Regions from separate parts of the Homo sapiens genome. Here regions 2, 3 and 4 are each linked to region 1. Evidence: fine-mapped expression QTL. A gene starts in region 1. Each other region holds a variant in brackets. All regions are shown on one strand. Distances are between the middles of the regions.

What was found. PIP is the estimated chance that this variant, and not a neighbour inherited with it, causes the effect.
Region 2: its variant is fine-mapped to the expression of KSR1 in whole blood (TOPMed, PIP 0.99).
Region 3: its variant is fine-mapped to the expression of KSR1 in whole blood (TOPMed, PIP above 0.99).
Region 4: its variant is fine-mapped to the expression of KSR1 in whole blood (TOPMed, PIP above 0.99). The same link has a PIP of 0.9 or more in atrial appendage.

What each region holds. Positions count from the first base shown.
Region 1 is chr17:27,452,408-27,460,111 of GRCh38, forward strand. KSR1 (kinase suppressor of ras 1) reads left to right here and starts at 4,041. Exons shown (of 21, transcript NM_001394583.1): 1 at 4,041-4,467. The coding sequence starts at 4,237. RefSeq lists silencers at 3,571-4,330, 4,851-4,900 and an enhancer at 3,706-4,207.
Region 2 is chr17:27,527,760-27,535,463 of GRCh38, forward strand. The region is part of intron 1 of KSR1 (kinase suppressor of ras 1); the gene reads left to right. Among named protein-coding and RNA genes, the nearest start is that of KSR1, 75 kb to the left of the region's middle. RefSeq lists a silencer at 5,132-5,317. The variant G/C (reference allele first, on the strand shown) is at 4,280.
Region 3 is chr17:27,518,968-27,526,671 of GRCh38, forward strand. The region is part of intron 1 of KSR1 (kinase suppressor of ras 1); the gene reads left to right. It also overlaps the pseudogene MSANTD3P1. Among named protein-coding and RNA genes, the nearest start is that of KSR1, 66 kb to the left of the region's middle. RefSeq lists enhancers at 416-565, 545-1,181. The variant G/A (reference allele first, on the strand shown) is at 4,516.
Region 4 is chr17:27,577,321-27,585,024 of GRCh38, forward strand. It overlaps KSR1 (kinase suppressor of ras 1), which reads left to right. Exons shown (of 21, transcript NM_001394583.1): 3 at 172-319; 4 at 5,326-5,785. Among named protein-coding and RNA genes, the nearest start is that of LGALS9, 50 kb to the right of the region's middle. RefSeq lists an enhancer at 1,975-2,044. The variant C/G (reference allele first, on the strand shown) is at 4,318.

The sequences.
Region 1 (7,704 bases):
TGGCGCATGCTAAGTGTCCTCTTCATGTTTCTTGGGCCTGTGCATGAAAATGCTCCCACCGCTGCTGTTGGTGTTTGGATGCAGACAAGCTCGGAAAAGCAATGAAGGGACCCGAGACAGAGGAGAGGAAGGAGAGAGTAAGCAAACTTTCTCTACTGAGGTGCCTCAGAAAAAGCCTCAAGAACCTGGAGATGATGCTGAAACCCTGAATCAACACATAATAGATCAATTCATCTAACTAGAAGAGATTCATTCTGGAAGGTGAGGAAGAAAGTAATGCATAGTTCAATGAGTTAAGCATTTGGAACAGTTTCAGTAGACATACAGTAAATATTTATCAAATAAATAAATATGCCGAACCCTTATTTTATGACCATTACTTTGTGTTATATAATCTGTTCATCCTCATAAAACATTATCACCATCTTGCAAATAAGAAGCTGTGCTACCAGATTAGGAGATTTGCCCGAGGTCATATAAGACTCGTCAAAGGTCATACAGCGATTCAGAGACAGAGCTGACTACCCTACTCTCTAAAACAGCTCTATTCGAAGTTGTAAAGGCCATATTCCCTGTCCCCTTCCCTGCAGTGCCATACCACCTGTTACCACTGACACACTGTGCATTTATCTGCTTGTCTGTTTCCTCTCACCACAGCATAAATTCCCTAAGGGTAAGAATCTTCATTTTGTTCACTACCCTTTTCCAGAGCCCAGAACAGGGCCTGCCATGTAAGTGGCACTTCATGAATGCTTACTGAATGTTAAAAGGATGAATGAAGGGATTATTTAAAAATCCTTATTTCGGCCAGGTGCCATGGCTCATGCCTGTAATCCTAGCACTTTTGGGAGAGTGAGGCCAAGAACAGGAGTTTGAGACCAGTCTACATGACACAGCAAGACCCTGTCCCTACAAAAAATTTAAAAATTAGTCAGATGCGGTGGCAGGCACCTGTAGTCCCAGCTACTCAGGAGGCTGAGGCAGGAGGATGGCTTGAGCCCAGGACTTTTGAGGCTGCAGTGAGCTTTCTCGCACCACTGCACTCCAACCTGGGCAACAGAGCAAATCCCTGTCTCTTAAAAACAAAAAACAAAAACAAAAAAGTTTCTCCACCTCTGAGGGGCAGTTCTGTAAACTTGTGGCTGACAGATGACTCAAATCCAGGCAAGAAGGCTGGAGGCCATCTGTGAGGAAGGAAAACTGTGGCCTGCTGAATGCTCTGGATAATCAGAGGGAAGACTGTATCCACAGAGGACAGACTCGCTGCATGGAACCTGGCGGGAGAGTAACCAGGGAGCTGGCATTTGTCCAGTCTCAGGCTCTGACATCACCCCTGTGGTGACATGGGTGGGCATGAATGCCACAAGCTGGCAGTGGCTCTTCTCAGGATGTGGCTTCCCACATAAAGTGGCCCTAGAGGGAGAATGTGATGACCAGGTCCCTGTGGCAATAACAAGTTTGATGTAAGTGCATAAATAGGCACTTACCAGAACATTTCTTGTGAGCCAGGCATGGTAGTTCACGCCTATAATCCCAGCACTTCAGGAGGCTGAAGGGGAAGGATTGCTTGAGCCCGAGAGTTTGAGACCAGCAGCCTGGGCAACGTAGAGAGACTCCATTTCTAAAAAAAAGGAAAAAAAAAAAAAAGTTAACGTTAGCCGGGCATGGTGGCACACTCCTATAGTCCCAGCTACTTGGGAAGCTGGGGTGGGAGGATCGCCTGAGTCTGGGAGGTCGAGGCTGCACTGAGCCATGATCATGCTACTGTACTCCAGCCTGAGTGACAGAGCAAGACCCTGTTTCAAAAAAAAAAAAATCTTTTGTGAATTGTGTTAGAATGAGTGAGTCGTTCAAGCCTGGCAGCTCTGGCTGCTGGACAGAGGCTCTGAACCAGCCAGGTTGGGTTGTGGATAGTCCCTTGAGATAGTTCTCTGCCCACTGACCTTCCTCTGTGCCTAGGCTTCTCAAAGTATAGACTTGCGACTGGGCTCAGACTAACCACATCAGTACCACCTGAGAACCTGATAGAAATGCAGATTCTCCTGCCCTGTCCTCTGATCTACAAAATTAGAAACTATAGAGGTGAGCTCCATGGTTCTGGGAATTAACAAGCCCTCCAAGTGATTCTGATGCATGTTCAAGTTTGAGAACCACAACTAGTTTCCCTTTCATAATAGTTACTACTTTGCAAGGAGTCGGATGGGGTTAAGGTAACAGGTTGAGAAATTCATAATATCGTGCAGGCGGTCTTTTTATAAGTTGAGTGAGGACTGGATCAATGACTCTCAATGGGAAAGGCCAGGGGTTAGGGAGGAACCTCCTTGCATTTGGAAAATCTCGAGGAGGGGTTAATTTGCAAAAACAAGTTTTAAAGTTATAGTTTTGCTTCCTAGACCTGATTTTTAAAAATTTATTATTTTTTTTAGAGACAGGGTCTTGTCACATTGCCCAGGCTGGTCTCGAACTCCTGGCTTTAAGTGATCCTTCCCCCTTGGCCTCTCAAAAGTGCTGGCATTACAGGCATGAGCCACGGTGCCCAGCCCTTAATTTATTTCGAAGGCTGGTGTAATATAAACATTAAAGGAAGGTGTAATACAAACTGCCATCCATTATTGATTGTTTTAGTGTCTACAAGGTTTGGATCCCACCTCCTGTCCAATTCTCATCCTCAAACACAAAAACAAAACCAAAAAAACAACTGTCTATCTACACACACACACACACCCTCGGCTGGCCTGAGAGGTAAAAGAAACATCCCATAGGACCTGCTGAAAGAGCTCCTGAGGCACGCTGGAGCCTTTCTTGTGTGCCATGCACTGTATCTGGCACTATAAAGAGGGTACAATAGCTAGTGGCTTCTGCAATCAAGCAGCTTACAAGAGAAAATTGAGAGGGGAGACATTTTTTCTGGTTGACAGATGTCGAAAGCATGAAGGTGTGGGAGCTTTGATCAGAGACTTGGTTTTTCAGTTTTGCCAGATAATAGAACGCATGGGGTGAACTAATGGGAGAGGAGGGTGAACAGATGGGCAAGGCTTGATTGCTGGGTTAGGAGGCACAGAAATGCACAGAGGACAAAGGACTACCAGTCCTTGGCAGTACTGTACTGCTCCATGGCCACTACCTGGGTCCAGGGCCACATTCAGATCTGAGGTTAGATAGTAAGAATTGCTAACATTTATCCAGCGACCACATGTGCCAGTAATCAATCTAGGTGCTGTACATGTATTAACTGATTCTTCATAGGAACCCTATTAAAGAGTTATTTGATGAGGAGAGTCGGGCATTCACTGGAAATCGAACGTGCCCAAAGTCTCACCCTAGACCGTGGTGGAGTCAGAATTTGAATCCTGGCCACTTGCTCCGAAGCCACCGACAATTCAGTGTGCTGTCCCCCGTGTCTGGGCTGGCTTGGTGGGCTGGGAATGGCGGGGGAATGGGACACTTATTTTGGCAGGTAAATGTGGTTCAGAAGAAAGCTCTTCGTCTTTCTCCAAGCCTGAGCAATCGTTTTGGCGCAGGCAGTCCAGAGTAGAGCGCTTTGTGAGCCAGCTACAGAAGTGCTGTAAGCCCCTTCCCACTAGATGGCAGCCCCTAAACCCACATACAAATCCTGGAACCTCCCTGGTCCCCATCTTCCAGGGCTGGGCTGCAGCTGAGGAACTGCGGGACGCACACCCGCCGGGCGTCCAGGGGGCGCCGCCCCATCCGGGGGTCGCGGGAAGCTCCTAGGCCGGGTGGGGGACGGAGGCGGACGGGGAGACGCTGCTCCCCCGACTCTCGGCGCCTGGGGGAGGAGCTGGCGCGGAGCAGCTCCACCCGGGGCTCCCGGTTGGGGCCGGCCCTCACCGCCTGCCTCGCCGCGGCCGCCGGGAGGGGAGGGGAGAGGAGGGCAGGGAGGGCGGCGCGGGCGCGGTCCGGGGCCCCGAGGGCGGAGGCCGGCGGCAGGTGCGCGGCGTGGACTACAAGTCCCAGCATGCCCGGCCGCCCTGACCCAGCCCCCGCCGCCGCTTAAAGGCTCCGGGAGCCGCAGCCGTCGGGTCGCCGCGGCTTTCGCTTTGCTGCCGCGGCTGGGAGGGTGGAAGCGGCAGACTCAGCGGCCGGCTCTACCGGCGTCCCGGCTCGGGCAGCGCCGAGGGGCGCTCCTGGTCCAGCTCTCCTGGCTCGGGGGTTCCTTGCCGAGGCGCCCGCGCCCCGGGCTCCCAGCCTCGGCCGCCGCGGCCCCGATGCCGAGGCATGGATAGAGCAGCGCTGCGCGCGGCGGCGATGGGAGAGAAGAAGGAGGGCGGTGGCGGGGGGGATGCGGCGGCCGCGGAGGGAGGCGCAGGGGCCGCGGCCAGCCGGGCGCTGCAGCAGTGCGGGCAGCTCCAGAAGCTCATCGACATCTCCATCGGCAGCCTGCGCGGGCTGCGCACCAAGTGCGCTGTGTCCAACGACCTCACCCAGCAGGAGATACGGACCCTGGAGGTAAGTGGGTCGGGGACCAGGCTGGGCTCGAGGAGCGGGCCCGGACACCTCCCTCCGGGCCCCAGTACTCCTGGCCGAGTTGCATCCTTGAGCCCGCGTCGCCCCCCTTGGAGGCTTCCCCTCCCTCCTGCACTCGCTGATGCGGCAGCCGGAGGACCCGGGACCAGCCCTCATCTTGGGCAGGATTTGTGGGGCGGGTGCGTCGTGGGAACTGGGATGGAGGCTCGAGGGGCCCGTGCGGGGTGGGCTGCGCGCGGACATCCCCTTTCCCCCCTTCTCCGCCCCCACCCCATTTCCAGTTTGCGGGGCCGCAGGACTCGTTGTCCCACCGAGTCACAAGCTGGACTTTTCCCCGTGTGACTGAGCCGAGCACCCGTGGGCCAGGGTGACGGAGGAGGTTCCCCTGAAGCGTGATCGCAGGCCTGCCGTCCCCTGTTCCCCTCACGCCCCAGACGCCGTCCTGTCCCTTCCTTTCCTCTCCTCTCAGGTCTTGTCTGCCGCCTTTTCAAAAAGTGTTGCTGAAACTGCATTTTTGTTATTCAGGCGTTTGGTGCTTTCCTTTCACGTTGCCACGGAGGCTCGCTGCTTAAAATGTATTAATAATTACCCGCTGACTCCCCCTGCTTCCCCCCAAAGATTGGATTTAGGCTTAGGAAGGATTATGCTGGGAAGCAAGCCTTTGGTGGGAAGATGAAACTGTTTAAAGGGTTCTGATGGAGACAGTCTGGAGTGTAAAGAAGAAATAAGATATGCGGGCCTTCCTCTCTCAAATTATAGCTGGGGAAGTATCTGAAGGATTTGGAAAAACCAGCCCGAGGGTTGTTGGGGCACCCTGTCCATACACAAATGAGGGCAACTAGTGGATTCTGAATGTGATTTTGGCCAGGGACGGGGCGGTGAAACGTCAGACCAGTTAATAGCTGCCCCGTCTTGAAGAAGGAACCTCTCACCATCTTGCCCTGCCACATCTGGCCTCCTGCAGGTCTGGGGATGTTTTGTTTTATTAGATCCTCAATTTCTCCTCCCCCAAACCCTCCCCCCGCCCCTTATTGCTAATTGCCTCTGCCAGCTGTCATAAGGCCCTCTGTGATCGCGGTAATTATTACAAGACCAATCCTTCCTCCAGGCATGCCACAAAGCCGAATCCTTGTTTGATTCCAAATGCTCGGGGGTGACTCTCCCTCAGTTTTATTTTCTTAAAAGCTATAAAACCACAGGACATTGGAAGAATACAGTCAGTGCTGGGTATTATTATTTTTTATTACAGTTGGCTAAAGCTGTACTGACCAAGGCTTTGCTTAAAAAACAAACAAAACCCCCTACAACTGGCCTTTCTGCATGCATGCTGCAGTTTTCCAAGTATTGAGAGAAACTGATTTTTTGAACACAGCTGAGTGTGTTTGCTCAGCAAAGTTCAGTTTTTAAGCTGACAACAATAGGGGGCCTGTGAGGCTCAGTTCCGGGAGGAGGGGTCGCTGTCTGGCAGAGTGTGCGTGGTTGGACTTCGGTGTTGCTGGGCTTGGAGAATGCTCTCTGTGTTGGCCTCTGTGGGATTGTCCCCACGTTGCTCTGAAGTGCTCCTGGCTTCCAGAGTGTGTATATAGGAGAACCACTTGCTGTGCATTCTCTGGAATGGCCTTTTGTCCTACCCTAACTTCCGGAGTCCCTCATTTTGATGGCAGTGTGGCGTTCATGACACCCCAGAGCATCCAGCTATTTAAGTGTTGGAGCTGGTTTATTCAGTGGCTTCCCTCCTGAGTGTTTGTTTAGACGATCATCCCTGGCAGCAGAGAACCCATCCAAAGGCCCACAGGGGATCTGCAGCTCCCTGTTCTTCCCACCGTGATGTGGATTCGGGTTCACTCCACTTCCTGAAAAGGCAGGGCCTGGGTTGTTTTGGGGGATGGGAATTTAGACCCCTGGAGTGAGTTCCATGGGGCTGCCACCAGCTAGTTTAGATGAGTCACTTCATCCCGGAGGCCTCAGCCTCCTCACCTGCAAAACAAGGAGGCTGGAGTGGATCTCTGAGGGCTCTGGAAGCTCGAAATTCTCTAGGTTAGAGAAGGAGACTTGGTTGGGTGAAATCAAATGTTTGTGATTGTTTTTATACTACCCTGGTTTAAGAATAACCCTCTTTAAGAATGGTTCTAAAATCCAGATTTACTGAACCCATAACATAGGGGTTAAGTTTATTAGAAGAATCTTTGCCATAGGAGCAGCGTGGTGAATAGGAAGCCCCATGGCTTTCATACTGGGCCTGGGTTCTGTCTGTGTGACCTTAGGCAAGTCCCATGACTTCTGAATCTCAAGCTCTCCTGTCTGTAAAATAGGAACGAGACTGCTCACACCTGCAGCATTTTGTCTGTCAGTCCGTGCTGATACTACGAAAAGAGTCTGCCTGGCAGCTGCCCCTAGTGAGGGTCCAGTAGCATTTATGGCACAGGCCACCACTAGGGAAACTTAACCCCTACTGGACCCTTGCTAGGGAAACTTAACCCCCTACTTTATGGGTTCAGTAAATCTGGATTTTAGGGAAAGGTACTTCTGCAGCTGCCTCTCATTTCATACAGGTGGGTGACACAAGCCAGGAAACAATCTCAGCAAGCTGGGTGGGACCGTCCACCGCCAGCAGCATGTGTTGGGGCCAGGCAGGCAAGTGGCAGTGTCCACTCCAGCGTTCTTTCCTGTTCTGTGGGCTCCCCACACACCAGGCCGTGGCCCCAGAGACTGTGCTTGCAACACTGGATTCCTGGCTTTTGAAGAAGGATCTGACCTGGAGGGCTTGGCCTGTGCAACTGCATCGGACTTATCTAGAATCTGAGGAGCCCCAGCTCACTCTGGCCTTCATTAAATAAACACTCAGTGGGAGAAGCAGCACGTGAAATGTCCGTGGAGGTCCCTGACCAGGGATGGGCTGCTGCTGCCTGAAATTGGGTTGTGATGGGGTGTAGTGGGTCAGCGTGTCTGGTTGTCCGGGGATAGCTTTTCTCTGTGTGGTGGTCCAGTTTGGATGGAAAAGGGTAGAAGGAGCTGAGACTTAACGTTTGCTGCCTGTGTGCCTAGCAGCGTGCCTGACTCTTCTCAAACTCACACACGTTCCTGGAGATCAGCAGTTTTCATCATACACATTTTCCCTCTCTAAATATAAAGGGAGGGAGGCACAATTTGAAACCAGGGTATTAATCTGTAAACAGAAGTTGTGAGGCTACTTCATCCTGGCAGGAGCTGGTGTTCTGT
Region 2 (7,704 bases), 75 kb after region 1:
TTCACCAAATGTTTTATCCTGGTCAGCAGTATCTTTAGAAGACACAAATTTTCATAGTTTCTTGATTTTAGGATATATTTCATAGTTTAATATTTCTGAAATTGGGAGGCTTTGTACGATGTCTTTAATGTAGTAATTCTTTGCTCTCCCCAAATGCTGTTATTACATTGATTATGTGTCTCATAAATGAACATCCCTACCTCTTGTGGGTCATCCAGGATGGAATTTGTTTTATTGGTCAGTAGAAAAGGCTATGACCTAATTAGTGTATCGAGTAGGTATTCTGTGTAAGTTAATGCATTTATTTTGTTTTTTATTATTTTTGAGATGAAGTCTCACTCTGTTGCCGAGGCTGGAGTGCAGTGGTGCCATCACGGCTCACTGCGACCTCTGCCTACTGGGGTTCAAGCAATTCTTGTTCCTTAGCCTCCTGAGTAGCTGGGATTACAGGTGCGTGCCACCATGCCTGGCTAATTTTTGTATTTTTAGTAGAGAGAGGGTGTCACCATGTTGGCCAGGCTGGTCTCAAACTCCTGACCTCAGGTGATCTGCCCACCTCAACCTCCCAAAGTGCTGGGATTACGGGTGTGAACCACTGTGCCTGGCCAAGTTAACACGTTTAGTCTTTAACACATTTGGTCTTTGGAAGAAACTGAAGCTCAGGAATGGATCAGTAATTTGTTAAAGGTCACACCGCTAGAAAAGAGTGGATCCAGTATGTGAGCCCAGCTCTGTCTAATCATGATGTTCAGTTCTTTCTCCTTCCCAGGAGAGACCTGTACTTCTTCACTTCTGGCTCCTGCTGTTTTTTTAAGCTGAGGATGTCCTCTTCTCTTCCTATTGAAACTCCATTTCTGGGCCAGGCATAGTGGCTCACGTCTGTAATCCCAGTGCTTTGGGAGGCTGAGAAAGGAGGATCTCTTGAGCCCAGGAGCTTGAGACCAGCCTGGGCAAGATGGTGAGACTCTGCCTCTACAAAAATTAAAATAAAAAAAGTTAGCTGGGTATAGTGGTGTTCACCTGTAACCCCAGCTACTCAGGAGGCTGAGGTGGGAGGATTGCTTGAGCCTGGGAGTGTGAGGTTGCAGTGAGCTACGGTCATGCCACTGCACTTCACCCTGGGTGACAAGAGAGACCCTGTCTCTACTGGAAAAAAAAACCACAAAAATCCCAAAACAAAACTTACACCACCTGTTCCCCAAAAACCTATTGGATAAAAAAACTCCATTTATTATTCTTTCAGTTTGGATAACATTTTATGATTATAAAAATGACACCCGTTCTTTAAAAATACAAAAAAGTAAATAATAAAACTTTCCAGTGTTTACATTTTGAGATGTTAATTTTGCTATAAAAATAGAAATTGACCTCAAAGTTGAAAAAAGAAAATTAATGCCTTAAATTAAAATAAAAAAGATATGTGAAGATCATACTGCAAATGTAGTTTTCTTACCTTGAGTTGTTAACTTTCTAGAAGATTATGGGCATTGCCTCATATGATTAAGTACACTGTTAAAAGGGACTTAAAAAAAAAAAGTTGCCTCATAGTGTTCTGTGATTGACACACCAGAATGTAGTTACCTACTTCCCCATGTTTGGCTATTTTAAGTTACACTTCCGTGAATAGGCTTATGCTTACACTTAATTGTTTCTTTAGGATAAATTCCTAGAAGTGGAGTCTGGCTCAAGGGGTGAGGGCCACCTGGTGAGGCTTCTGTTGCATCATCCTGTTTCTCTGCTGCCCTCCAGGGGGGCGATGCCGCTCCACGCTCCTGCCATGCTCCTGCCACAGCCACACTGGGGAGTCCCTCTGCCAATGTTGCCAAACATCTGCCCATATGTTTCCATTTTGTATTTCCTTGCTTATTATTAAGGTGGGAGGTTTGTTATGGTTGCCGGCAGAGGTAACTTTCCTTTGAGATAAACATGTATATTTCCTTGGCCTGTTTAACTGACTTGTTTGTGCAACCCCAGTCATTCTTCAAGACCCAATTCAAAGCTCATCTTTTCCATGAACTCTTTCCCGACACCCGTCTTTTCTCTGAAGCTGGAAGCTTTAATTTTCATATCTGAATTCTCACAGCCTGTGTGTATCTGAAAACCCTTGTCAAAGACACTTTTGCATTGCAACTTGATATCTTTGGCCCCCACTTGAATCTGAGGTCTTTAGGGTAGGAGATGGGTCATTCATTTCTGTGTTGTTTGCAGGGCCTTGGCACCATACTGGGTAACTAGTGGGTACTCGATACTCTTGAATGGATGGATAGATGGACACACACTGTTCTTAACAAACCAACCAACCCATCCCACACCCGTCAGCAAAATGAGTTTAATGCCACCTTATGAAATTGCTCTCTTCCTTTCCGCATCTTTGCCTTTGGAATCAGTGAGGTTTTGCTCCATCTAAAGACCCAGCAGGGGCTGGGCGCAGTCCCAGCACTTTGGGTGGCTGATGTGGGTGGATCGCTGGAGCCCAGGAGTTTGAGACCAGCCTGGGCAACATGGTGAAACCCTGTCTGTACAAAAAATACAAAAATTAGTTGGGTGTAGTTGTGTGTGGCAGTGGTCCCGGGTACTCAGGAGGCTGCGGTGGGAGGATCGTTTGAGCCTGGGAGGTCGAGGCTACACTGAGCCGTGATTACACCACCGCACTCCAGCCTAAGCAACAGAGTGAGACCCTGTCTCAAAAGAAAAAAAAAAGACCCAGCAGGGCAGATGGAGTAACCAGCAAAGCCGACCTTAGTGGTGAGGCTGGGCATGGCGGCCTGAGCAGGGATCGGCTCCAAATAGTACGTCTACCGTGGGCTCCTGGACCTTTCTCCCTTTGCTAGAAGAGAAGCACCAGCACCCTCCCTTTTCCTCTTGTGACATTTTAAAATGTATTATTCCCATTCATAGCCTTATAAAATCAGTACGCAGTAATTAGAGAACATTTGGAAAACACAGAAAAGTAGAAGGAAGAAAATAATTACCTATAGCCTTCCCACTCAGATCAGCCCATTCACAGATGACATTTCTGCTGTGTTTTCTTTCAGTTGTGTTTTCCAGGCAAAGACTTTGTGTGCGAGGTTTTGCTTACGTAGTTCTTGCCATCCATCATGTAGATTTTTTTGTCCTGCCTGTCGCTTAGTAAAATAACACAAAAAACTTCCTATGTTTTTGTAAACCTGCTCAGTGGCTCTGTCATAGTTTAGTAAGTGGTTTTACCATCACCTCCTTAGCTGTGCTTCCATTGTTGGGGCTTTGGGTTGTTTGCACTGTGTCCCTCTTGTAAACAATGTCGGGATGGACAAGTTTGTGCTGGGCGTTTCCTTGTCCCTTTGGCTGGTTACCTCAGGCAGACTGGCCCATACCAGCCCTTCCCCGCTTCATTCTCCTCCCTTGGGGCCAGTGCCCTATTCGCCTCTCGGTTTGTGTTTCTCAGTCTCCATGTGTAGCAATATGTTGAGAAACAGCTTCCTTTTTCAGGAAGAAAGCTCAAGATGTTGAACCTCGAGGAGGCTGTGCACAAAGGTGCAGAGTCCTGCCTGCTGGGTCATGGCCTTGGCACTGCAGGGCGGCCCCCTTCTGCCTCACAGGCCCAGGGTTACAGAAGGTGCAGGTGACGGGGAGGCCACGCCTTTGAAGGGGCTGCCTGGCAAACCTTTTCCCCTGACAGTAAGCTGAGGGGGTGGCCCTGGTCACATGTTGCAGGTCTCTGGAGGGGGTGTAGTGAATACCTGAGTCCATTTTCTGCCTGGTCCCACACTCGGATCCGTCATGGAAGATCTGGCCCCTGTGTTCTGTGGGCGAGTGCTTGGGGGAGAACCCCTCCTGTGGGGCTGCTGAGATGTGTGCTGTGCTGGAGGTGGCTTCAGCCCTGCTCCTCTGAGCAGCTGCTTGGGGCATGCTGTTGAGCTCCAGAGAGCACTTCAGCATATAGCCAGCAGCGCCCTGAGGAGCTGCAGTGACAAAGGCCACTGTGGCACTCAAGGCTCAGGTTTGGATGGTGGAGTAACATTGCCTAGGTTCACCTCCCACCCTGGACAGTTACTTTATCTCTCTTTCATCTCCACTTGGGGATAGTAATAACACCCACCTCCCCAGATGAAATGAGTTAGCATTTTATACACTTCTCAAAACAGTCCCTGTTTGTTAAATAAAAATAGGGAACCAGCGTTACCAGCTAGACCACTCGCTCACAGCAGGTTGAACCCAGGACTTCTGCCATCCAGTATGGGGGAAAGAGTGCTGGACAGAACCAGGAGACCGTCCTGGCACTGCCTTCTACTTTGTGTGA[G/C]TTTGACTAAGTCGTTGTCCCTCTCTGGGCCTCAGTTTCCTCATCAGTTTTTCATCTATTTCTGTGAGATGACCTTAGGCCCTTCTTGTCTTAGAACATCCAAGGATTTTGTAATTTAAAGGCATTTCAGACATCTGAAGATGGGTCTGGTCCTGCTAATAATCCTCACTGGTTGACGTGGTCCTTAGATGGGGCCAATTGCAAAGGTCAGAGGGCAGGAGATGCAGAGCCCTGTGGGGTTTGCCCGGTTTTTCTCAGTGCGGGTGAGCTATCCTCCACCTGGAGGGTTATGGTAGCTGGGTCACCTGGGAACAGGCCGTGGGAGAACTGGCCTCCTTGGGAATGTGTTGTCCTGCGCGGCAGAGCACTTTCAGGTACGGGCTGCTCTGTGAGGCCACCCTGTGCTCCAGCCCGCAGCACTTGAGACTGACTTGCCCTGAGGTTTGTGTGAGCGAAATCGGGTCTTATGCAACAGTGAGTGCGTGCATCTCCGCTTCGAGCTGTTACATCAGAAAGCTAAACACAGAGAGCCCTTGCAACTGGAGAACTAGCAGGAGGCCCTCGCTCTGGTTCTTTGTCAGCGGGTGGGACGGGGTAGGATGTGGCTTACAGGCAGCTGTGGAGGAGAGGACTGTGCTAGGAAAGAGGTTGGAGCTGGTGGACTCTCTCCCAGGCGCTGCTTTTCCAACAGGCTTTCTGGAAGGTTCTGGCCTCCTTCTGATCAGGTGGCAGAGCATCCCTGGGGCTCCTCACCAGTATTCGTGTGCTCTGGGTCAGTGATGTCTCCATCTGCATCACTGCTGGTGGAGCACAGTGGGAAAGGTCAGCCTTCAAACTGTGGAAGGTCAGACCCAGCGCCTCAAGCCTGGAGGGGCAGCGTGGGGCATCAGCCTCTTATGAGTTTAAGTTGGCTCTGACACATACCAGCTGGGTGACGTTGGGTTGGCTTCCTGACCCTCTGAGTCCTTTTTTATAAATGAGAACATTTGTACCAAGATGCCCAGCATTGGCCTGATGGACAGTAGGCACCCCAAAAGTCTCAGTCATTTAAGGAAGTAATGTAGCCCATGGTTAAGAGCATGGGCTGAGCAGCTGAACTTCCTGGGTTCAGTTTCTTGCTCTGCCACTTACTAGCCGCATGACATGGGACTGTTCCTCATCCTCAGTTTACGCCTCTGTACAATGGGGATAGTTGTGATAGGGCGTCTCTCACAGGTTTGTTGCAAGGATTAAGTGAGTTAATTCAGTTGTCCCTTGGTATCCATGGGGGAGTGGTCCCAGGAACCCCTGAGGATACCAAAATCCACAGATTCTCAAGCCCCCTTAGTACAGATGCAGATGCAACCATTCTTTTTTTTTTTTTTAAGATGGAGTATCACTCTGTCACCAGGCTGGAGTGCAGTGGCATAATCTTGGCTCACTGCAACCTCTGCCTCCCGGGTTCATGCAATTCTCCTGCCTCAGCCTCCCGAGTAGCTGGGACTACAGATGCACACCACCATGCCCAGCTAATTGTTGTATTTTTAGTAGAGACAGGGTTTCACCATGTTGGCCAGAATGGTCTCGATCTCTTGACCTTGTGGTCTGCCCGCCTCGGCCTCCCAAAGTGTTGGGATTACAGGTGTGAGCCCCCGCACCCAGCCGCAACCATTCATTTTTTTAAAAAGATTTCTGATCTGCCGTTGAATCTATGGATGCAGAACCCACAGATCCTAAGGGCTGTCTGTACGCATAAAGCACTTAAAGCAGTGTCTAGCGCATAATAGTCACCCTTGTTGGAGTTAGCTGTCATTGTCTAATTTCTTCAATAAGGGTGGTCAGTTGATTTCTTGAGAGCTTGGCAGCATACCGCCTCTCTTTATTTTGAGATGCATCCCCACCCTGTTCAGCTAGAGCTTGTCCAAGGTGACAGGTGCGTGTGCGCACGTGTGTGTGTGTCTTTTTCAGCCATGTCACCACTATCCAGGTCTGGAGAGTAGCTCCCCTTGCAGCCTGGGGGCCAGGCCTCTCCTCGGCTTGCTTCTTCAGGCTGTGTGCATCTTGTTACCCATCCTGGTTTGCCTCCCTCTTCTGCACAGACTGTGCTCAGAGGTTCGTGTTGCACAGTTTGGCTCGGGTGTGCCCAGCTCTTGACCTGAGAATAAAGTAAGGGCCAGGAAAGCCATCCTTTCAGTGTGAGTGTGTTCCAGCCACGCCTGGCCTTGTCTACGTTTGCCCATTTTCAAGGAATACACCAGGGTAGCTTGGGACATGCCATGTAGATGGAGTCATCCAGGAATGTGTTTAAGAATCTTAAAGCAATAAACAAGTCAGACTAACTGCTTTCAAAGAGTACAAGAGACTGGAATTTTCATGATAGAGATGGCTGACAATGAGTGTTAATCTATTATAGCAGGCCTGATGTCTTCAGCAATAGACATCCCCCTCTTCCCCCATTTTGCAGATAAGGAAACTGAGGCAGAGGGTGGTTAAGTAATCTGAGTTAAAGCAGCTAGTCAGTGGCCGAGCTGGGATTTGAACCCGGGTCTGTTGGCCTCTAGGCCCCAGCACCTGACTATCCATCACTATACTGCCCCTGGCTGGCATTCCTGGGATTATACAGCAGCGGCATCCTGTTGCCTGAGCCCTTTCTCATCCCCCGCTAATGATAGTGCTAGTAATGTGAGTCCAGTTACAGCTGTGTTGCCTGAGGTGCACAGGGCCTAGGGGGATAACTGCGTTGTCTTTAGCCATTGCTTGTTAGAGAAGGTGGTCTTGCCTTCTTTCTCCCTCCCAGAGCTGATGTCACCTAAACCCTGCTGCAATATTATTCCTGGGTTTCAGGTCTGATTTTTATGTCCCCTACATCCCATATCTCCTTCCTCTGACCAGACAAAATGGTCCCTCAGGAAAAGAGCTTTGAAGATTATTTAGTGGAGATGGCTGTGGCTAATCAGTGACCTTCTCAGATCGCTTAGGAAAAGCGTGTGGATGTCCTTGTCAGGGCTTTCTTCCCTGAGAGGCATCTGAGAAGTCCCTGGGGTCACAGCTGGGAGTGACCCTGGGTGGGACTCAGTGTTTCAGGGGTGCTTGGTTTTAATCTATGAATTTAAAATCATGCTTTCCTGGGTGGGAGTTGGGGTGGGCAGTGGTTGTGAAGCTGGCGCCACAACATAGGATGGTGTGTAGCCTTGGCCATGTGCCTTTACCCCTGAGCCTTGGTTTGCAGTGAGGATCAGATGAGGTGCTGTCTTGCCAGAGCGCTCCGTAAACTCTGTAGTGCTGTGACTGAGTGTGAGGTGCTGCGACCAAGTATCCATAAGATACACAATCATCACATTGGTGTGCGCCACAGAAAGAATGCACAGTCATGTCACTAGGAGTAATTCTGGTCTCATTTGAAACTCAGCATGGTGGTTTGGTGCCAGAGGTGTTCCTTGGGCCTC
Region 3 (7,704 bases), 67 kb after region 1:
AGGTGTTGGGTGATGTGTCTAGGGTCACATTGCCTAGAAGAGTGGCAGGGCTGCGCTTGCTGCAGGCTTGCTTGATCCTGAAGCCCTGGTTCCTCTCACCATGCCCTGGGCTGCAGAACTCACTTCTGGGCCTTGTAAGGCCGCTGGTGGGTAATGGTGACAGTGGGAGGAGTAATACCTGAACAGAGGCTGCCCTAAATAATGGCTTGTGGTGGTCAGCGCCTGGAAGCCCTGGGTGTGGTTCCCTGCAGAAAGGAATTCTGAGGCCTCAGAAATGAGGTTTTGTTTTGTTAAAATTGTCTTGGGCACCCACTCTCCAGTTGCAGGTCAGGGCCTGCCCTGTGGCTCAAGTGTGGGGCCACATGGAGGTTGAATCAACTGCTCCCTTAGGGCTCCCAGGGGTGGGAGGACAGGAAATCCCTCCAGGATTGTTTAGTTCAGCAATACTCCTCCCCACACCCGTGTTACAGCTGAGGAAAGGAGTCCCCTTCAACCCCCGGCATTTAGTGATTCTATCATGTCGGCATAGTTTCTTCTCTGACCTGGCCATGGTGCGTTTGATGCCAAGAATGGGCAGCCTGAGTGGTGATGGTCAGTCAGTGCCACTCTGTCAGTCCCGGGACCCCAGCTGTCCCCGTTCTCTGCACAGCCCAGCCTTGGGTGCTTGCTTGTGGGGCCTGCAATGTGAGTGTTTAGAGCTGCCAGATTTGTGGGGGATTTCTGACACTGTTAAAACCAAACAAAAAGCAAGGAGCTCTACTGAGCTGTATGATTATTTAGGCTCTAAATTGGGACGGGTTGTGGTGAGGGACCTAGAGTCTAAGACCAAAGGAAAGTCCCTGGTCCATGGCACAGGCTTTGAATGTGGGCCCCACCACCTGAGAGCTGTGAGCTTTGGGAGGAGCTCTTCATCCAGCCCAGCTGGGAGTGGGGATAGTAAAACTGTTTCCCCAGCCGGGAGTGGGGATAGTAATACTGAACCTGGCAGGGCTGCTGTTAGACCATGGGTACTCAGTGCAGCAGAGTCTCTGTAAATGGCAGAGGTGGTGCTTTGCAGATGGGAGAAGGGAATAAACCTGTAGCTGATGTCAGGCCCTTTGTTGCACCCTTTATACCGAATGAATTATTTCATTTCACTCCATAACACCTCTGAAATAGGCTACACTGTTCCCATTTGACAGACACCAAAATGAGTTTCGGAGAGTTTCTGAAACTTGTCCAAGTTCATGTAGCAAATGGAGTTTAACTTCCAAATTCTTTCCACCTTGCCATGAGAAAATTTCCATTCCTGCAGAAGATGGCCTTCTATAAAGGGCACCGAAGGGATTTAAGTCACACCTTGGGACACATTCCTAGATCCAAGTGGTTTCTGTATGTTATAGGCCAGACAGTAGCAAATGCAAAGGTAAATTTATGTGCCTGTGGAGGGGGAGAATTAATTTTTTCCCCTCCCTGGACTTTAACTCTGGAAAGCTTAATCTTCTAAAGCTTAATCTTTAGAAAGGGCTCAGAAACTCTGCTTGGTGCGCATAATAAGTGTTGTGTCCCCAAGGCATTTGTTAGATAAAACGAAAATTAAATAAATAAATAAAATGCTAATCGTGCCACCAGCCCTGAAGTCTCCTTGTCTCTGCTGGCTTTTCCGTGCAGAACGGGCACAGTGGAGCTTTGTTCTTCTGCCCCTTTGTCCGGACGAGGCCTCTCAGGGGCTGGCTCACAGGCAGGGAGGCCAGGCTGTGCCCGCCCAGGTTTCCCAGGCCCCGCTGCCTCCAACTCTCACTGGCCTCCTTTTCCCGAGGGTGGGGCGGCCCCCTGCCAGTGGATTGGAGGGGTGCTGCCTTCCCCCTTACCCATTTGTCCCAGTGGCCAAAAGGGGCTGAAAGCAGGTAGCTGGAGGATGCGGGAGACGTGTGATTCCCTGTTTGCCAGTTGGCCTAACTGGAATCTTCCTGAAATCATTGTATCCCTGTGAGCAGACAGCAGGCACTATGGGCTGTTTGGCCTTGGGTTCGCTTCCTGCCTTGGGCAGTCTGTGGAATGGGGCCCGGTCCTCAAGCACTTGTGGCTGTCACCAGCAGGAAGTTTGTTCAGCACCGTGGTTCTGAACCCTGTCCTCATGTTTGAATCATGGGTGCTTTTAAAACACATCCATATCAGGAGCACAGCCCTGGGCCAGCTGACTTAGTACCTCTGGGGTGGGAACTGGCCCAGGCATCTCTATATGTATACCCGCTCCAAGTGATTCTGATACACAGGGAGGGTGGAAAGCCCCTGGTTAGGATACCCAAGCTGAAAGGACTGCTCAGGAGTTGCTTGTTCCACCCTTCAGTTTACCCATGAGGACAGTGAGTTGACAAAGGCCATTCCTTTTTTTTTTTTTTTTTTTGAAACAGGGTCTAGCTCCATTGCCCAGGTTGGAGTGCAGTAGCTCACTGGAGCCCCGACTTCCTGGGCTCAGGCAAGCCTCTTGCCTCAGCCTCTTGAGTAGCTAGGATCACAGGGTCTAGCTCCATTGCCCACGTTGGAGTGCAGTAGCTCACTGGAGCCCTGACTTCCCGGGCTCAGGCAAGCCTCTTGCCTCAGCCTCTTGAGTAGCTAGGATCACAGACATGAGCCACCACGCCTGGCTAGTTTTTGAATTTTTTTGTAGAGATAGGGTCTCACTGTGTTGCCCAGGCTGGTCTCAAACTCCCTAGGCTCAAGTGATCCACCTGCCTTAGGCTCTCAAAGCGTGGGGATTGCAGGTGTGAGCCACCACGCCTGGCCTGCAAAGGCTACTCTGATGGAGGCAGGTGGGTTAGAACCAGGTCTCCTGACGTCTGAGCTCCCAAAGCACCACCTGTTGCCCTGTTAATCCACACTCTCATGGCTATGGGAAAGGCAGGCAGTTGGAATTATGATGTTGATGATAAAAATGTCTGCTTATCACCCATGCTGCTAGGGAGACCAGGCTTAGTTAGGTTTACTTTCTCTGTTCTTTCCTTTCTCTTGCACATATTTACCATTGCATCTTTTCACATGACATCACAAGTATTTATTTTCTAGGCCATGAGTTCTCAGAGGTCAAGTTCTGGATAATGGCTGGGTTTTTGTTACAGCCATTCTTATACACTGGTACCTGGCCAGAGCAAGCTTTCAATAAATGTTGTGGAGTGGAAAGGTGGATACCAGACCCCAGCCTTGAGCCCGGTGGAGTGTCTCTCTGAGCCCCTGGGTTAAGTGGGTCAAGGCAACTACCCTTTGCACTTGGGGCAAGTTGACATGAAAAATCCATAGACAGGCAGAGTCAGGAAAAACAGGACTGAGAAGGGGCTATGAACTTGATCCTAGGAATACTGGCTTACTTGAAACTAAACAACCACGCAATCCTCCACACAGCTTTGGCCCCCGCTCCCCGTGGCCCTCCCGCCCAGCTCGCCTTTGCAGTGAGCAGATCCAGTATACATGTCACAGCTGGAATCTGGCTTGTGTTTGGAAATAAACAACTTGGCCCCTCTCTCTGCCTGGGATTTTCCTTTATCAGGAGATGCTCATGAGCCACCACCAGAGATGAGGTGTTTCTTTCCAGCAGAGATGAGATGTTCTTTTCAGCAGCCTGCCTGAGAGCTCCAGGGAAAAGTGGGAGGGCTTTGTGGTGGGACAAACACCTTCACATTGTCCTTTTCTGGTTGGTATTGGAGAGGGCTTGAGTGAGTAGGCTGGATATGAAATAATTTGAGGGGTGGTGAATGCAAAGGACTAATCCACCAACCCCCCAGCAAGTTTGCAATGAGGGAAAGTCTCTGTCTTGCAAGAGGAGACACCATAGATAGAAAGCAATGGGTGCACCACTCTGAATGCTGGCTGCCCAGCTAGGTTGCTTTTTGCAGGGTGGTCTGTCCTCAGGCAGCAGCCAGACAACATTTTGGGGAGAGTAGCTCAGGGGATTCCTGTGTTTCTGCTGTAGCTAGTTCAGGGTACTAAGAAAGAAAAAAAGGATCCTGCTACCATCATGTTAGGTAGAAATTGGCAGTTTAGAAATACAGCATGGGGAGGGGCCTCCTCTCTCACACAGGGCCCTGGGGAGTGTAAATTGGTACAACTACTCTCAAGAGAACTTGACTAGATGTGGTGAAGTTAGGGATACACATACCCTATAGCCAAAAATTTTACTTCTATTGTCTGTACTGGAAAAACTAGCATGCAAGTGCTCAAGGAGAAATAGATGTACATTGTAACATTTTTGGTGATGATGAAAAACTAGAAGGAAACTAAAAGCCTATTAGCCAGGAAATATATCAATAAATGACGGTTTACACAGTGTAGTACTTTTCACCAGTTCCATCTGACTTACATGAATCAGCCCGACTACATTTAAGAAAAACGTTGGTAGAAAGGTTGCAGAATATCTGTAGTAATGATACCATTTCTGTAAGGTTAAAAAAAAAAAAAAAGGAAAGATACCATTTTTGTGTGTTTGAATTATTTAGAAAATGAGAGACATGTTGCTGCCATCAAGTTGCTCGCAGTCTAATG[G/A]GGAAAGTTGGCAAATAAACAGCTGGAGGCTTCCAGATAGTGAATGTTGATGTTATTGACCAAGTTCCTTGTCTTGCAAGACATGACCAGTTTGGAGGGGATATTAGATAAAATAGAGTTCAAATAACAGTAACTCAAGCAAGTTAATTTTTCTCACACATAAAAGAAGTCTGGATGTAGGTAACCCAATGTCGGTGTGGTGGGTCCACAAAGTCATTAGGAACTCAGGAACCTTCCAGCTCACCCTTCTGCCATTCCTTATCCTTATGTTCCTAGATGGCTGCTGGAGGTCCAGCTTTCACATCAGCTTTCCAGGGAGCAGGATGAATGAACTGGAGAAGGATGTGTCATGTATATATTCCTTTTGAAATTACCATGTGGCACTTCCATTTATGTGTCATTGGCCAGGTATTAGTCACACAGCTACACCTGCCTGCAAGGAAGGATGGAAACGGGCCAGCTAAAACCTCAGCATTCTGTTAGGAAGAAAGGAGAGTGGAAAGTGGGAGGCCACCACTAGATGATGAAAGATGAGATAGTGAGTTTGGGTACCTCTGGCCCATGCAGGCTGGCCATCCATTTGGGGGTTAGATTGGGGCTGGAGCTTATGAGTGGAGTGGGGTTCAGAGTTTTCTAAATTGGGAGGCATAAGCGTGTAGGTGATTGTGGGAGTCCTGGGAAGGAGGCTGCTGAGTTGTCAGAAAGGTAGGAGAACTGGGAAGCTAGGGGTGGGCATGTCTGGGAGGAGAGACCACTTGGCCAGATGCCCCAGTGAGGTCAAGCAGGATGAGGGTGGGAGTGAGAACATGGACTCTGGGGGCTTCTGCAAGAGCAGTTTTGGTGGAGTAGAGAGACTAAGATCAATGGAGGAGTAATATTGAACAGCTGAGGAAATGTGTCAAGATCTTTGAACTTGAAGGGAATGAGAGAGAGAAGGGGGAGCTGAAGAGAAAGTATTTATTAAGGCCAGAAAGATTTGAATGCAGGTTTGGAGGCTGAAGGACAGCTAGATCTCCCCTCCCCATCCCCTTCCCAAGGAGGGAGGTATTGATGGGAGGTGAGGATAGGCAAATCCAGCAAGTACAGGCCGGTGGCCTCCAGTATCTCTGCAAAGGGGCTTGTAGAGCATGAAACTGGTAAGATGCTGCCCCAGGAATTGGGGAAGAGCAAGGAATTAGATAGAATCAAATCAAAGAGCTGCTAAGCCAGAGGAAGTAGGTCAAAACCTAAAACTTTGGATGTCCCCAACCCACCTGCACATTGAGTTTTCTCCAGTAGCAATTATAGGAGCAGAGAAAAAGAGATTACCCAGGATTAGAAGGCTGCAGGCAGAGCGGCAGGAAAAGGCAGGGAGGGGGCTCTGGGTTCCTGGAGTGGCAGTGGTGGTGTGGAGTTCAAGCAGGGTTATATTACATTATGCTGTAAGGTGGAAAACGGTGGGGCACATTTTAGAAATATTCCCATTAGAAATGGTAAGAAAGAAAAAATCTTATGCCCATGAAGTTGTAAATGTCAGAGCATTGTCTCATCATTACTGAAAATGTGATCATTCTAGACACACAGAATTGTGCTCTCAGTCACCCGCATCAGTCCTTCTGTATATTTTGAGTTGCATTAATTTGCAGGCCACTTATTTAATATGAAACTGTGCCTGCTTGTTACTTGGTAGCAGACCTGGGAGCCAGGTGGCCTGGGTTCAGATTCCAGCTCCGCCTCTTACTTACTGTGTGAACTTGGACAGGGCTGTGTACAGTCAAGCAGGTTGTGCACTGCACAAGGGGGTGAAGGGTTCCTTAAATCCAGACTGCCCCTATTGCCAGGAATATGCCTTTTGTGGGTCTGTGCTGTGTCTGTGCAGAGGATGGGATGCACTCTTTCACCTTGCACAAAGGCACTGCATGGGTTGGTTCTGGCTCTGGCTTTGGGCAAGTTGCCTCTGTGCATCAGTTTCGTTGGAGAGAATAAATGAGTTACCGCATGTAATGTGCTTGGAACAGGGCCTGACACATGGCTAAGAACCATGGTAAGGATTAAATGCTGATTATATGTAGTACTGGAATGAGCTGAGCCTTCTGGGTCTCCTCTGAAGGCTTATCTTGAGTTTCCCAAAGCCTGGCATTTAGGAGAGGATACAGCTCTCCACCCCTTACAGTTTGGTCACTGAGTTTGCATTTTTTCCCAAAGGTTCCAAAGGTTTCCAGAGGTTCTCTCTAAACCTTAAGCTTTTCCAGGTTGCAGCTGCTTAATCTTCAGGCAGCTGACCTTGGTGTTCCTGGTGCCTTCTTCATCTGAAAGAGGATGAGGTAGTTGGGGCCAAGGACACCCCGGGTAGTCTAGCAAGATTTGCCCTTCAGACATTTGTGTAAATCTTCTCCCTAAACATCAAACTGGAGAAATACAGGTGTGCTATAGGGAGAATGAAAAGAGCCCTTTCCAATTTGGAACAGTTTGCGTGGAAGGTGGGGCCTTGCCCCTATGGCATCCAGATCTGTTCGGTAACTGCAACTAACTTTTCTTTTCTTTTCTTTTCTTTTCTTTTCTTTTCTTTTCTTTTCTTTTCTTTCTCTCTCTCTCTCTCTCTTTCTTTCTCTTTCTTTCTTTCTTTCTTTCTTTCTCTCTCTCTCTCTCTCTCTCTCATGGTTCTTGTATGAATTCTAATTAAGAGACATTACATTCAGAATTATAGCACTCATGGTGATAATTTTCAGAAGACTGTAACAGCTTCTTTGCCACTTAAGGGGTACAAAGGGTGCAGCTGTTTCCCTGAAGGAATTCTTAAGTTAGTGACTACTACCACTCAAATTTTCCTAGTTGTCGCTCTGTTACAGGTTACTGACCGCAAGTCCATGTTCCAGACATTCTTTGCCAACACAATTAATTACAAGAGAGCCACCCCCAAAGTCTTAGGGTGAATTGGGAAAGGGCCGGTTAAATGAGGAAGCAGGCCATTCCTTGGTAAAAGTTTGTAGTTTTTTTTCCCAATACATCTTCTCTTTATTGAGAACTTCATTTTTATCCTGTGTTCCTCCTCTGCCATCTCACACTCTCGCTCTGTCTGCTGGATTTTGGCCACAATGCACCTCATTCATTTGTATCAGTTGCAATTGTAAGATGGACATTTGTTGATCATGTTCAGTCCTCGTGCATCTTTTTTAAAGCACCTTCCTGAGAGATTTTGCTCATGTAGTT
Region 4 (7,704 bases), 120 kb after region 1:
TGGGGGCCAGGGAGCTCTGCTTGTGTCCCCAAGCACGTGGTGGCTCTGGTCAGAGGCCGGCCCAGCCAGCAGCTGGCCCCTGCCACTCAGCAGGAGGCCAGCCTGAGGCTGAGGGGCTCCCGGCCCAGCCGACTGCTCACCGCCTCTCTGCCTGTCCCTCTGTCCCCTTAGGAGATCCCCCGAGACCTCACGCTGGATGCCCTGCTGGAGATGAATGAGGCCAAGGTGAAGGAGACGCTGCGGCGCTGTGGGGCCAGCGGGGATGAGTGTGGCCGTCTGCAGTATGCCCTCACCTGCCTGCGGAAGGTGACAGGCCTGGGTACGTGGGGCCTGCCACCCTCTCCCTTGCCTGGCCTGGTGCCCTTGGGGCTGTGGCCTTCACTATGGTGGGTGATGGAGCGGGGCAAGCGTGGCCCAGGGTTTCTGGGGCAGCCTGGAAAGGCCAGGGTTGGATGTTCACAGCCTCCTGAGAAGCTCTCCCAGGGTCCTCAGGGCTCTGGATCCTGGTGGGTCTGGCCAGGCCGAATCTGAGGGGTTTCAGCCATGGTTAGAAATCCCAGGCCTGTCTGCTGGGCTGGGCTGGCCTGGCATGGTTTCCTCTCTGTTGAGGGCTCTGTGTACCCTCTGCCAGCTTCCCACATTCCAGCCCCCAGCCCTCTCCCCGTCTTCTCCTGTCCCCATTGCTGGCTGGGTTCTGTGCTCAGAAGGCACATGCTGATGTGGGCCTGAGCCAAGGGTGATTAGGGAAACTCTATGGCTCTTTAGCTGGGAGTGTGTACGTGGCTGTCCCAGGCAAAGTGTGTAATCCTGGCCTTGCCACGAGGTCCTTGGGAATTATTCACAGGCTTTCTAAATCTTGCGTCGGAAACAGCTTCAAATGCCTGACTTAATGGTCCCACTACCACATAGATAAGGCATTAAAATAAGCCTCATGAATGGAATCAGGCCTGGTTTTTAATTATCTGAGGCCCCTGTCTTATCTCCGTCTGCCTGAGGCTTAAGGAAGGCACCAAGGTTTATATTCTGCCTGGTTTTTTCTTCCCAGAGAGGATCGGGCTTAATTTCCTCTCTGCCCTCATTGTATCAAGTCCTCTGAACACGGCACAGTGTAGAAAGTTGCACTCAATTCAGAAAATCTTGACCTGCCAGGTCTCCCGGCAGATGCTGAAAATAAACACAACAGAAGTGTGGCTGGTGTTCTTGTTCTCACATATTACAGGAGACTGAGCTCAGAGAGGGAAAGGGCTTGGGTAAGGGCACACAGCAGTTGGTGGCTGAGCCAGAATTTGAACCTTGGGCCCTGATGGCGATTGGTTTGTCCCCATGCTTGCCACCCAAGCTGAGATCTTTGGGGTAATTTGTCAGCCCTTCTTTGCTTCCTCCTTATGCCTGGATTTTAAAGAATTGTGGAAGAGTCAGCTTTTAAGTGGTAGTGACCTATTTGTGTCATGCAGGCTGCTGTCTACCTGTCCTAGATGCCAAGAGAGGGAGATCACTAATTTATGCACCTACTGTGTGCCAGGCGTGTGACACACATATTGTGGCCACATCGTTGTAAGAGGTAGTGTTGAGCTCGCTTTGTAGCTGAGGCCTCTCTGACCACTGGAGGCGTTGGATGAGTCATCTGGGGCCCCACACCTGGCATGGAGCAGAGCTGGGCTTTGAACTCAGGTTTCTTGTTCAGAGGGTGCTTTTTCCAGCAGGCCTTAGAGGAGGCCCCTGAAGAAGAAGCATTTTCTGGGTTTCTTCTCTCTCATTTAGTCTCAGCTTGTGGTGCCTCTGCATCCCCAGCAGAGTCCTAGCCCCATCACAGTCCAGGACACCGGCCTTTCGTCTGCCCAGTGCTGGCTGCACTTCACGGGCACCTGCTGGGATCCGCTGGGTACCAGTGATCCCATTAGATTGTGCATCACAGCATCTTCATTGCATCCCCATGGGGCTTGGTGAGAGCAGTCTAGTCAGAGTACAGGTGGGCTATGGAATGAAACCACCTGGGCCCTGCCTGGGCCCAGCACTCTGCTCGGCCACTTAGAACCTGTGGGACCTTGGTGAGTTACTTCACCTCACTCTGCCTCAGTTTCCTCATCTGTAAAATGGCAGTGATAACGACACCTCTCTCAGGGTTGTTGTGAAAAGGAAATGAGTTAACGTAAAGTCCTTAGATCAGAGCCTGGCATGTATTAGATGTTCTTTTCAGTGTGAGGCCTATGAGGTGATAGAAAGTGTTGAAGTCATTTCCTTTGCAATCTCTGGTCTAAAGAAAGGTGAGTGAACAGCTGGGCATGGTGGCCCAGGCCTGTAATCCCAGCATTTGGGAGGCTGAGGCAGGCTGATTGCTTGAGTTCAGGAGTTCAAGCCCCCCCTGGGCAACATGGCAAAACCCTGTTTCTACAAAAAATACAAAAATTAGCCAAGAGTGGTTGTGTGTGCCTGTAATCCCAGCTACTCAGGAAGCTGAGGTGGGAGCATGGCTTGAACCTGGGAGATAGGGGTTGCAGTGAGCCAAGATCATACCACTGCACTCCAGCCTTGGTAACAGAGCCAGATGCTGTCTCACCAAAAAAAAAAAAAAAAAAAAAAAAAAAAAAAAAGTGAGTGAAGGATGGTTGTCTGTGCTGGTGAATAGGAGATGAACATTCCTGCTGATCCTCCCAATCCTTCACCCGAGGCAGATATCACTAACCCACAGATGTTTCTGTGTGACTGTAGTGTCATTCTCAAGCAGCCACTGCCAATCAGCTGGTGTCGGTGCACACATCAAGACCCACTGGCCATCCTCAAGTGGGCCTAGAGCAGTGGTGATTAAATAGGCAACTTGCAACTTTGGGGCTTGTTTCCTTTGGTGGCAAGCTTGCTCCCTTTGGTAGCAGGCTTACTCATAGATTCATGAAATTCATCCTTTCATCTGCTCAATAAGAAACCTGTTTGGTGCCTCCAGTAGGCCAGTCTATGAGCTACAGTGTCAGTCATGGCTGTAGCTCGTAAGGAGCAAGCGGTATGGGAGCACAGGGACTGAGCAACTCCTGTCTAGTCGGTTCCTGAATAGAAAGTCACTGCAGTCAGGTGGGAGGAAGGGTGTTTGAAGAGGGGATGGGATGTGCAAAGAAACTTATGAATTGGGAAGGCTAATTCATCCCCCCTATTCTTGAGAAGTGGCTTGACCACCTCTGATGGAGCTTGTTACCTCCCACAGCTGTTCCGCTCTAGGTTATTCAGAATCAGTAGCATTGTCGGGGGCAAGGTGGGGAGCACGGTGCTGAGATCGATGTTTTCAATTCCCATCCCACCACTTTCTTAGCTCTCTGGCCTTGGGCAGTGTCTGTGGCCTCCCTGAGTCACAGTGACCTCCACTGTACACTGGGGAGAAGAACAGATATTGCGGGAGGGAGGAGGGAGGCAGGGCTTGTGCAATACAGGTGCGTCAGTCCCTTCTCACAGGCTGTAAAGAAATACCTGAAACTGGATTGGTTATTTATTTATTTATGAGACGGCCTGGAGTGCAGTGGCGCGATCTTGGCTCACTGCAACCTCTGCCTCCCGGGTTCAAGCGATTCTTGTGCCTCAGCCTCCCAAGTAGCTGGGACTACCAGTATGCACCACCACACCTGGTTAATTTTTGTATTTTTAGTAGACACAGGGTTTTGCCATGTTGGCCAGGTTGGTCTCGAACTCCTGACCTGGTGATCTGCAGGACTGGATAATTTATATAAAAAAGAGGTTTACTTGGCTTATGGTTCTGCAGGCTCTCCAGGAAGCATAGCAGCTTCTGGTTCTGGAGAGGCATCGGGAAGGCTCCAGGCATAGCGGAAGGCAAGGGGGAGTGAGGCGTCCCACAGTGTAGGAGCAGGAGCAAAAGCAAGAGCGAGAGGGGGCAGGGAGGTGCCACACACTTTTAAACTCACTCTCTCGAGAACAGCACCAAGAGGATGGTGCCAAAACAGTCATGAGAAACCACGCCCATGATCCAGTCACCTCCCACCAGCCCCCACCTCCAACATTGGGATTACAATTCAATATGAGATTTAAAGTTCTTAGCAAGACATTCAAGGCCCTTCCTGATCTGGCCCCACTAGGCTGACCCCCCCAGCTTCATCCCTTGCCTCTCCCCAGCTTGTCCTTACCTCTGACAGCACACAGAACTCTTCGTAGTGACCAGAAGGTGCCGTATGCCCTTACCTTCCCATTATGCTGTTCCCTCTGCCTGGTGCTCCTTCTCCACCTTCTTCCATAGCTGGCTCATGTGGAGCTAGCTTCATAGGTGGCTCCCAGGTGCCACCTCCTCTGGGAAACCTTCCCTGGCACACTCCCTCTCTCCAC[C/G]CCCACAGCTGATTTAAGGTCTGCTCTTCTGCAGAGCCCCCTGTCCTGGCACAGAGCATACATAGTGTGTTATGTGCCTGTCATGCCCATTCGACTCTACAAGCACAAGGATGGGTCTTTTTAGGCCTTTCCACCCAGCATCCAGCATGTGCTTGAATGGCTGTAGCTCAAACACTACAGAGCCACACAAGCCTCGGGGGCCTCAGGCACAGGATCATGGTAGGGGCAGCCCACAGTCACTCGAAGGCTGGTGTAGAAGGAAGTGGCTGTTGATCCCTTTCTTCCTGGATCTTTTTTCACAAGCCCCAGAGCACTTTGCTGTTGGATGCTCAGAATAGCCCCTCGTCCCAATGTTTGAATTTTCTTAAAGTGGAGTTTTTCCTTCCTTCACACACCCAGCTTCCCTTTCCTAACTCTTAAAGATTGGTCACCCCTTCGGTTTCTGAGGTCACCCCACTTTTGGGGTGGGTTTCCTGGATTGCTCCCCCAAGACCTGCCCATAAGAGCCCTGCACGAGCCAGTTCCTCTCTGGGCTGTGCTTCCTCCTCTGTAAAACAGAGATCCAGGTTGAGTATCCCCTATTTGAAATGCTTAGAACAAGAAGTGTTTTAGAGTCTGGGTTTTTTTAGATTTTGGAGCATTTGCAGTATGCCTACCTGTTCAGCATTCCCCATCCCCAAATCCAGAGTGCTCCCATGAGCATTTCCTGTGAGTGTCATGTCGGTGCTCAGAAATTCCCAAGTTTTGGAGCGTTTTGGATTTTGGATTTTCAGATTAGGGATGCTCAACCTGTGGTAGTATCTGCGCCGAGGGCCTCATGGTTGGCTAGATAATGTGTGCGCATGAGTGAGCGGCCTTTATAAACCAGGTAAAGGTTGGTAGTTGAAGCCTTCCCTTAAGAAACAGTGCAGCCTCACACCAGGTGTTGAACATCTCTGGCCCCTAGCCATCTCCCCTGTGAATTCCTTCCAGCCCTGACCATCTGTGACTCCACGTCTTGGTCCACAGGAGGGGAGCACAAGGAGGACTCCAGTTGGAGTTCATTGGATGCGCGGCGGGAAAGTGGCTCAGGGCCTTCCACGGACACCCTCTCAGCAGCCAGCCTGCCCTGGCCCCCAGGGAGCTCCCAGCTGGGCAGAGCAGGCAACAGCGCCCAGGGCCCACGCTCCATCTCCGTGTCAGCTCTGCCCGCCTCAGACTCCCCCACCCCCAGCTTCAGTGAGGGCCTCTCAGACACCTGTATTCCCCTGCACGCCAGCGGCCGGCTGACCCCCCGTGCCCTGCACAGCTTCATCACCCCGCCCACCACACCCCAGCTGCGACGGCACACCAAGCTGAAGCCACCACGGACGCCCCCCCCACCCAGCCGCAAGGTCTTCCAGCTGCTGCCCAGCTTCCCCACACTCACCCGGAGCAAGTCCCATGAGTCTCAGCTGGGGAACCGCATTGATGACGTCTCCTCGATGAGGTGAGTGCTCCTTCTGGGCAGCTACCAAAAGTGCCCTCTGTGGTTTTCTAATCATAAAGATATATGGAAGGACCAATAAAATCAACCCCTATAGACGTGTGTAAAGTCAAAAGTAAAAGGTGCCCCCATCTTTCAGTCCATTCCTCAGACTACTTTAGTGGTGTGGGCTGAATCCTTCTAGATTTGGTTTTGTATGTACACGTACATGCACATGACGTGATGCCACGTATGGGTCAGGGTAGGCCAGGTTACACAGAAATAACAGATATGCCCAAATCACCAGGTCTTAAAGGAACAAAGATTTGTTTCTTGCTCATGCCGCCTTGTCCATCTTGTCCATCATGGGTCAGCCTCCTTCCGGGCCCAGACTGTCTGAACATTGCTGGCCACGGTGGCAGAGGGAGAAGTGAGTTCCAGATGTCATGCCCTGGCAGCTGCGTACTCCTTCTTGGAAGTTCCACCCACCATTCCTGGCCCAACCTGAACAGGAGAATGAAACAGTGCTCTTTGCCCACACGCCCAGGAGGGGAGAACTGGAATATTTGGCAGAAACCACTAGTGACTGTCAGATACCATACCATCTACTCTGTCCCATGACTTGTTTTTTCAACTTCCCTTGGTATCTCTGAGAACATCATGTCAGTACATCTTGGAATGTTTTACTCTTTTGTTTAGTTTTTGACTTACAAATTTTTCTATCTATATATTTTGAACAAGTGAGACAGTCACATGGTCCAAAGCGCAGCAGCTCTGTGGCTTCTCAGGGTACGTGGTGAAAACTCTACCCCACCATTTTTATTCAGTCACAGGGTTCCCCTTTCAGGAGCCAACCAGGCTAGCAGTTTTGTGTATGTCTATAATTAATTAAACCCCATTTGTTTGACTTGTTCATATTATTTCGTTGTATAGTTTATCTTGTCCCTTCTTGATGGGCGTTAGATCATTGTCTTTTTTGTTACAAAGATTGCCCTTGTCAGTATACCCTTGGCAGCACAGAAAGAAAGGGAGTGTTTTCCTTGGGTGCCTCTTACCTTCTTGTACCCCTGAGGATTGGGGCACCTGGTTTCTCTCCTCGGCATGGGCACCCCTTTCCTACGCTTGATCTTAGCCAAAAGGCCGAGAAGCAATAAGGGCACCCTTTTTCTAGGGGGTTCCTTGGGCCCTGGTGTATCTTGGGCCTTGGAGTCATCTTTGGAACGGGCCTGATCCCCTCTCCCAGTGCATGCTGTTAGGGTCCTTTATGGGATGGAGCCTGGACAGCTCCGATGGGTTTGAGTATGCTGCCCAAGGAGGAGAGATCCAGGTGTCACCGACCCTGCTGCTCCCACTCGGGCTGTCCTGCTGGGGCCTGGGTCCCACCCAGAAGGGGCTGTAGAATGCAGTGATGATGGCCACACGAACATGGGTCAGTCAGAGGAGGCCTCACAGTGGGCTCAACCCAGTCCCTGTGTTTCTGTCTTCTCCCAAGAAGAGCATTAGGAAAGCTGTGGTCTCATTCCCATGCTAGAAGGTGGCAGGGACACAGCTTCAGGCAGATGACACAACTAGCCTCAAACTCCAGCCAGTGACTGAGCCTCAGACCCTGGGATTCTGAGTCCAGTCCCTGCAGAGCTACCAGAACCAGCACTGACGTGACGCTCAGGCCACCTCGCTGTTCTGGTGACCCCTGAGTGCTCTGCTTCCTCCAGCTCCATGTGTTCTCAGGGGCAGTGGCTGCCCCCTGGGGAGGCTCAGGGTGTGTCCCTGCCTGACTCTCCTTTCAGGGGCTACCTCTGCTCTGCACAGCTGTTATCTCTGCCCTCCTGTCCAGCCACACCCTTGCCAACTGATAGTTATTTTTTCTTTTTCTGAGAAGGAGTCTTGCTCTGCTGCCCAGGCTGGAGTGCAGTGGCGCAATCTCGGCTCACTGCAACCTCCAC